2 linked regions of the Homo sapiens genome follow. The protein of the gene in region 2 interacts with the protein of the main gene of each other region in a biochemical or structural test. Each region holds a gene or a part of one and is shown on either strand. Other genes may lie near its edges.

Region 1 (3,745 bases), on a different chromosome or scaffold from region 2:
CCTCAGGAGCAACACTTAAAAAGATTATACTACCTTAGAACTATCTGAAATGTATTTAGGAAAGAACTAGGGTGACAAGTTTGACCTTCCATAAATTCATCTTTTTTTTTTTTGACTGTGCAACCTCTAATTTCCTCTAATTTGGAGAAGGGAGGGTGGGTGGAGAAAGAAAAAAAGGTGAAAAACATCTAATTCAGTGTGTACAATCTCTCTCTTGTGTGTGTGTATATACATATGCGTGTGTGTGTGTGTGTGTGTGTGTATTTTTCCCCCTCCACCAAGACCTTGGAGGTCAATAAGAGGAAAAAATGGCTCACAAGACAAGGTTTCATGGCTAACCCAAGGGAACACCTTCACAGCTGAAGAATTTCAGCTCAGGGGCAACCTGGCTGGGAGTATCAGAGGCCACAGCATTATGGACCAAGAGCGCAGGCCGCACCACCAGCATCCCAGGCGCCTCTGCCGTGCGCATGTCCCTCTTATATAAAGAGATGCTTACAGTCCAGGTGCTTTTTCTTGGGGCCCATTACTTCATGAGTAGTGGCTTTGCAGACCGCTCTTGCTACAGCAGAGCCTGTAACGCTGTACTGAGCGGCGGCGATCCGATCCGTGAGCGTTTGGCCCGACATCTTCTGTGGTCGCGTCTACCGCCTCCTCTTCTGCAGGAAACAAGGGGAGACGGTCCGGCTTTAATCCGCAGACCCTACCCTCCAAGCACCCAGGCCTTGCCTCCTCCAGCCGCGCGGCGGCTCTCTCCTCCTCCATCCCCACCCTGGCACCACCTCTCGGAGCCAGCAACGCGCCAAGCCCCGCTCCTGCGATGCGGTCCAGGGAGTCTTGGCCGTGAGTAGGGCCGTCACGGAACCCCAGCGTGGGCTCCAGTCGCAGCATCGTGACACCGTCCCCATTCTCCCCCGGCCCCCACATAGGGCCAGACTCACCCCCTGGGGACCCCCCTGTCAATCAGCACTTTCCCCGCAACCTGACCCGCGGGTGCTGGACTAGCCACAACGTGCGTTGGGGTTATTCCCTGGGCGCCGCACCCACCGGTGCCCATCTCCCACCTCAGCAGACTTTCCTCCTAGCAGCCCGCAGGCTTCGGGGAATGCATCGGATACCCAAGCCCTGGCTGCCTCCCTCCTCCTCCTCGCGCTGCTGCAGCAAAGGGCTCGTCCTCCCTCAGTCGCGAAGGAGATTATCCTAGCGTTGCGCCATGTTATGCCCTCGCCTCCCCTTCCTTCCTCGCCGCCGGCTCCAAAGCCTCGCCGAGGCCCATCGCCCGGGCCCCTTCCCCCCGGTTCCAAATCCCTGCCGCAGGGGCCGCCCGGGAGCTCTGCGGAGGCGCCGGAGTCTTGGGGCGCCTCACCCTTCCTGGCTTTGGAGAGGAGCCGGGCTGACAGCGAAGCCCAGTCCCCCGCCCGCCCTGGAGCGCTCCGCGGAGCTGTCACTCGGCCGCTGCCCTTCTCCGCACCCTGGGATTATCCTCTGCGGATCCCCGCGAGACCCTGGCGCGGGGAGGGGGCCGAGTACGGCCGCGGGTACTCACCCCGCCCCTGAGCGGCGCCGCCCGCCGCAGGATGAGCGGAGCCCGGGCCGCCGAGGGAAGCCGCGCCGGTGGATGTGTGCGACCGCGCGTAGCCCCGGTGCCCCCGGGCGCAAAGTCTCCAGCCCTGGCCGGGCCCCGCTCCTCAGCTCCGCGGTCCCGGCGCCCACCGCCCCTGGCCCCTGGCCCCAGAAGCCAGTACCCGCCCGCCGCCGCCTCTTCTGCCAGCGCCGCCGCGTCTCTCTAGCGCTCCGAGCTGCGTCCCCATCCCCGCCCCCACCTCAGCTGTGGCTCCTCCGACGAGTCAGGTGACGGCGGCGGACAAACCCGGACGAGCCCTCGGCGGAGCGCCTCGCGGCCCCCTCCCAGCTACTCACACACACCGCCCCCCGGGGCCGGGAGCTTAAAGGCGAGGGGGCGCCTCGCGCAAGCATCCCCGGCAAGCCGGCGGGGAGAAGAAGGAGGCGGGGAGGCCGACACCCACCCAGCCAGCGGCTCTCCGCTGGGCGCCGGGCCGCCCCTCCGCTGCTGGCGCCGCACCCGGCACGCACTGGGCTCGCGCACCACGCACACCTGCCCGCCGACTGCGGGGGGAGCCCTGGGCGTTGGGGGCGTTGGCCAAGACGGGCGAGTGGGCTTCTCGGGTTCTACTCTGTGAAGGCCAAGGCAAGGGCGTCGTCGCGCGCTGCCTGGCGGAGCCCAGCCCCTTCCCCACACTGTCGCTGACACGCCCGCCTGTCAAAGGCTCCGAGGCCCAGATGAGCAGGGCGATTTTAAATGTCAGATCCTGCCGGCCATCCGCGACCGTCACCTGTGCGTCTTCAGCTCCTCAGGCTCCTCCGCTTGTCTCAGTTACAACTGGGAGCCCGGGTGGGCAGGTAATTCTAGCCACTTTAGTCTTAAACGGATACTGAGGTCTGCTGAAGGGAGAATAATTAACACAGCCGTTAATCGAGTCCCAGATTACCTTCGACAGTAATCATTTGCGTGCATAAAGAAAACCCTTTGTACCCTTAAGAAGTAATTTCTGCCAATTAAATATAGTGTTGGAACGTCCGTCAATTGTATGTCAAGTGTATATTCGAATAGTAAGCAGGAATTTCTAAACAGGGATGTGGAGTTGGTTAATAGCTTCACGTGTTGACATTTTCAAAGGTTGTTATTTATGTTCACCTTTTTTTTTAATTCTCACAGTAGCATGAAGATCAAAACTATATTTGTGAGCTTTCCTGGCATTTTTTCTCCTTGCTTCGGGTGGCTTCTGCTCGGCCTTGAAGCCATATATCGATACCTATCGATCTCAACGTTTTGTTATATATTCCTCTCTTTCACCTGGTACAGTGTTCAGTATGCAGTCATGATTTCCTAACTACTGAGACTGATTCTAGGACTAATTGGAAGCTTAATGACTAAAGAGAGACAGCTTAAGAGCACTATTGTCTCAAGTACTAGTCTTACCATATTTACAAGGGAAATAAAAACGCAATTCTATTAAAAAAACTTGTACTCCAGTTTTATAGCAGCTTAATATAATGGCCCCAAACTGGAGGAAAGCCAAATGTTATTCTACTAGTAAATGAATAAACAAAATATGGTATATCCACATAATGGAATACTACTTAGCAATAACAAGAAACAAACTAATACCATTCATGAATCTCAAATTCATTAGACGAAGGGAAAGAAGCTCTATCAAAAATTCTACTTATTATTTTGATTTCATTTATGTAACATTCTGGAAAAGTCAAAACTATAGAAACAGAAAACACATCAGGTGCCGAGTCAGGTGACGGTGGCATTGGGGGAGGGGACTGCAAAGGGGCAGAAGGAAACTTTTTGGAGAGATGGAAATGTTTTATATCGTGACGGTGATGATGATTATACAGCTGCATGTATTTCTCAAAACTCATCAATTTGTACACTTAAAATTGGCGAATTTTGTTGTTTGTTAATTATACCTCAATATAATCTGATAGAGTTGGGAGTGGCAATATTAATATCAAAGTAGGTTTTACAATAAGGAATATTAATAGCAATAAACAGGCACATTTCATAATGAAAAATTCATTAAGAGCATGGAACAATTCTACTTGTTTGTATATCTAAGAACAGAGCTTCAAAGTAGGACGAAGCAAAACCTAATAGCATTAAAAGGAGAAACAGGCAAATCCACAATTATACTTCAGGATTTCAGCACTTTTC
Region 2 (3,745 bases):
AAAAAAGAAGATGTTCTTATTATAAGCTGTTTTTTATTATACTATATTGAGATTTTGGAGCAAAATGCCTCAGCTGTTGTTCAAGACTCCTTCCAACCAGATTTGTTTTTTTTTGTTTTTTTTTTTTTTTTTGAGGCGGAGTCTCGCTCTGTAACTCAGCTTGAGGACAGTGGCACTATATCAGCTCCCGCAACCTCTGCCTCTGGGGCTTAAGTGATCCTCCCACCTCAGCCTCCCTAGCTGGGATTACAGGCATGCGCCACCATGCCTGGCTAATTTTTGTATTTTTAGTAGAGACGGGGTTTCACCATGTTGGCCAGGCTGGTCTCACACTCCTGACCTCAAGTGATCCGCCCGCTTCGGCCTTCCAAAGTGCTGGGATTACAGGTGTGAGCCACCCCGTCTGGCCCCAACAAGAGTTTGACTTGCTAAAACCATACTTAAGATATTAAATGCCACAAACTACCAGAGGGTTATTTTACACTAAGAGAATTATAACCTTCTAAAAAGGCCAATTTTTGATTCTCTGCTTGAAACAAATCAAATTCCATCTAATGAAAGTTAAGTCGGGCTGGATGCGGTGGCTCACCCCTGTAATCCCATCACTTTGGGAGGCCAAGGCATGCACATTGCAAGATCAAGGGATCGAGACCATCCCGGCCAACATGGTGAAACCCCGTCTCTACTAAAAACACAAAAATTGGCTAGGTGTGGTGGTGCGTGCCTGTAGTCCCAGCTACTTGGGAGGCTGAGGCAGGAGAATTGCTTGAACCTGGGAGGTGGAGGTTGCAGTGAGCTGAGATTACGCCACTGCACTCCAGCCTGGCGACAGAGCAAGACTCTGTCTTTAAAAAAAAAAAAAAAAAAAAGGAAAGTTAAGTAAGGCTGGGCGCGATGGCTCACACCTGTAATCCCAACACTTTGAGAGGCTGAGGCCGGTGGATCGCCTGAGATCAGGAGTACAAGACCAGCCTGACCAACATGGAGAAACCCCGTCTCTACTAAAAATACAAAATTAGCCAGGTGTGGTGGGTATGCCTGCAATCCCAGCTACTCGGGAGGCTGAGGCAGGAGAATTGCTTGAACCTGGGAGGTGAAGGTTGTGGTGAGCCAAGATCGCGCCTCCAGCCTGGGCAATAAGAGCAAAACTCATCTCAAAAAAAAAAAAAAATCAGTATAATTCTGGCACTCCATTTTTACAATATTCAAAATATTGATTCCTATTTTGCTCCTTCATAGTCAAGAGAAGCCACCAGAACTTAGAGTACAGATTCAAAAGCTGGGAGCTCAGTCGTCTTAGTTGCATGCAGATTCTTTTTTTTTTTGGAGACAGGGTCTGGCTCTGTCACCCAGGCTGAAGTACAGTGGCATGATCACAGCTCACTGCAACCTCCACCACCTCAGCCCCCCAAGTAGCTGGGACTACAGGTGCTTAAAGCACTTTGGCCTCTTAAAATGCTGAGATTACAGGCGTGAGCCACCACGCCCGGCCTGCATGCAGATTCTTGACTACCTCCCTTCTAACTAGAAACAGCTGCAGGAATAAAGCAATTGGTTGAATGGCCCAATGCTACACTGAGGAGGGAAATATTAGGCAGAGTTACCTGGCCACTAGATCTATTTCCAAAATCATCTCAAGGGCATAAGGTGATAAATAGAAGAAAATCTCTGTTTTATAGAACAGGCAATGATAACGAAGGTTATTTTGCCTGAAAAAACTGTGAAACTGAAAATTTGTTACCCGGTCTAAGAATTTTATTAAAAAATAACTTTTTTTACTGAATAATGATGGAATATATGACATTGCTTTATGTCTCTCTAGACTGATACCTCCATGGTTGGTTGCCCCATTTCTGTGATTTTATAGGCCCTGCTTATGCTGTTATCATGGCACCCTTCCACTGTTTCTAACGATCTTCCTATTTTAGACATCTCTGAAAGAACGCAGAGTAAACATGAGAAGTTAGTGAATTAGGGCCCTCCAAATAAAGATTGTTTAAATCCTGACAACCATTTATTTATTTATTTCATAAAACTGGCATTTACATTTTTAAAAAGCTACTGTGTAAGTTTAATAGTTTTACTTTCTATTCAAAGAATCTCTGGCTCTATCCTCTCATATAATATTTGCTGACTGGTCTCCAGAAATCATTAAAACTTTATACACAAACACACATACACAGCTGCAAATACACAAACTTATTACTGGCATTATTCATCTAGTGGGCAGAGAGCAATGACTCTGTAATTGTTCATTAAATCACCATCACCCATAACCATCCACAAAATAATAACTGTTAGGATTTTACTTACATTACCAAGACTAAGAGAAAGATTTACAAAACAACTTGTGTATATGACAAGAACTGGGACTACTAAAATCATCTGTGCGATGGAACAACCGTAGAACTGTCAAAACAGGATCAAACAGAGGTTTTGCTTGGGGGAAGAATGAAAGATCATTTTTAGTATCTTGGTAAATTTAGTTAAAATGATGCAAACTTGGCAGACTCCAAAATAATCTCTGAAAACTCTTTAAAGATTTCTCCCCCAAACAGCTCATTCACAGTACTTACAGCACTGAAGTTGGCAAAATTGCTTGGATCAGCCTCTTTATTGGTAGTGGTAGTAGCAGAAGTGAATGGATCACAAAATATTTCAGGATCTTTTTCTTTGGGGCTATCGTTGCCTGGGAAAGGCTGAAATGGATCATTCAGTTTAAAGGGATCAGGAGAATCCAATTTGTTGATGGATCTTTTCCCTGGATCAAAATCATTACAATTAATTCAACCAGTAAATACAGCAAATACAAGCACACAAGAACATGTACACAGATAGCATTAAAGTACTGTGGGTAGAGGATGATTGAGTACCTAAAACACATTCTGAATATTGTCTTAAATAGCTACACCAACAATTTGTCCTCAAATTCTTCACACATGATCTCTCAAATAGATTCCAGCTATGTGCAGCTAATGAAACAAATAGCAAAGTAAGGATGGGCCAGGAATCATATTTTTGTCCAAAGACTGAATCCCACCATCCCCTAGCCACACCCAAGCAGCATGTTCCCAAAAGGAGAGACGAATGGATTAAACAGAAGGAGAATAATAAAGAATAAAGACAGAAATGGCCTGCCTCTGCTGTTACAGCCCTCAGCCTGATAACAGTTATCCACTAGTGGCAGTAAGAGCAAATGACCTCTGAAAACTGGGAAAATTCTTCTGATTTTTCTCTAGTTCTACATACAATACCTAAGAGCATAAAATTTTTAAATTACCGTAGTAAAATGCTGCCAATTTTTTGTTATTTACTGTATTTCAAAATGAAGAAAAAATGTTTTGAAGCCCAGGGCCTAAATCTTTGCGGTTGCTGATCAAATAATCTCTGACCAAACAATAGTATTCTGTCCTATTAGTCACTCACTAATTCATTACCATTTTCAAACAAGTTCTCTAAGTCTTACTTAAACTTAGTACTTCTTGAAGAAAAGATAATAAAAATAGGGGTCAAAATATCTCCAAATATATTTTTTTCCTAAAATGCATAAGCTGGTAATAGCAATCATAACAACAGATTCCATCACTGTAGCTGCTTAGAAAAGATGCTCATATCTCAATGGATTCTTCCAATAATCCTGTGAAAGTAGGCAAAATTAGAATTACTGCCAACATTTAATAGCCAAGGGTCAGATATATGAAATTATACACTTAAGATCATAGTTAGTCAGGGAACATCCAGAAAC

What was found. The genes of interacting proteins can lie anywhere in the genome.
Region 1: the proteins of EPS15 (region 2) and SNAP91 form a complex in vitro, tested with the Homo sapiens proteins (one study listed by BioGRID).

The regions. Positions count from the first base shown.
Region 1 is NC_000006.12:83,707,299-83,711,043, forward strand, and holds the start of SNAP91 (clathrin coat assembly protein AP180), read right to left. Parts: upstream 1,804-3,745; 5' UTR 1,547-1,803; exon of another isoform or gene 942-1,546; intron 660-941; 5' UTR 630-659; coding exon 500-629; intron 1-499. UniProt on the Homo sapiens protein: Adaptins are components of the adapter complexes which link clathrin to receptors in coated vesicles. Clathrin-associated protein complexes are believed to interact with the cytoplasmic tails of membrane proteins, leading to their selection and concentration.
Region 2 is NC_000001.11:51,358,595-51,362,339, forward strand, and holds part of EPS15 (epidermal growth factor receptor substrate 15), read right to left. Parts: intron 2,762-3,745; coding exon 2,577-2,761; intron 1-2,576. UniProt on the Homo sapiens protein: Involved in cell growth regulation. May be involved in the regulation of mitogenic signals and control of cell proliferation. Involved in the internalization of ligand-inducible receptors of the receptor tyrosine kinase (RTK) type, in particular EGFR.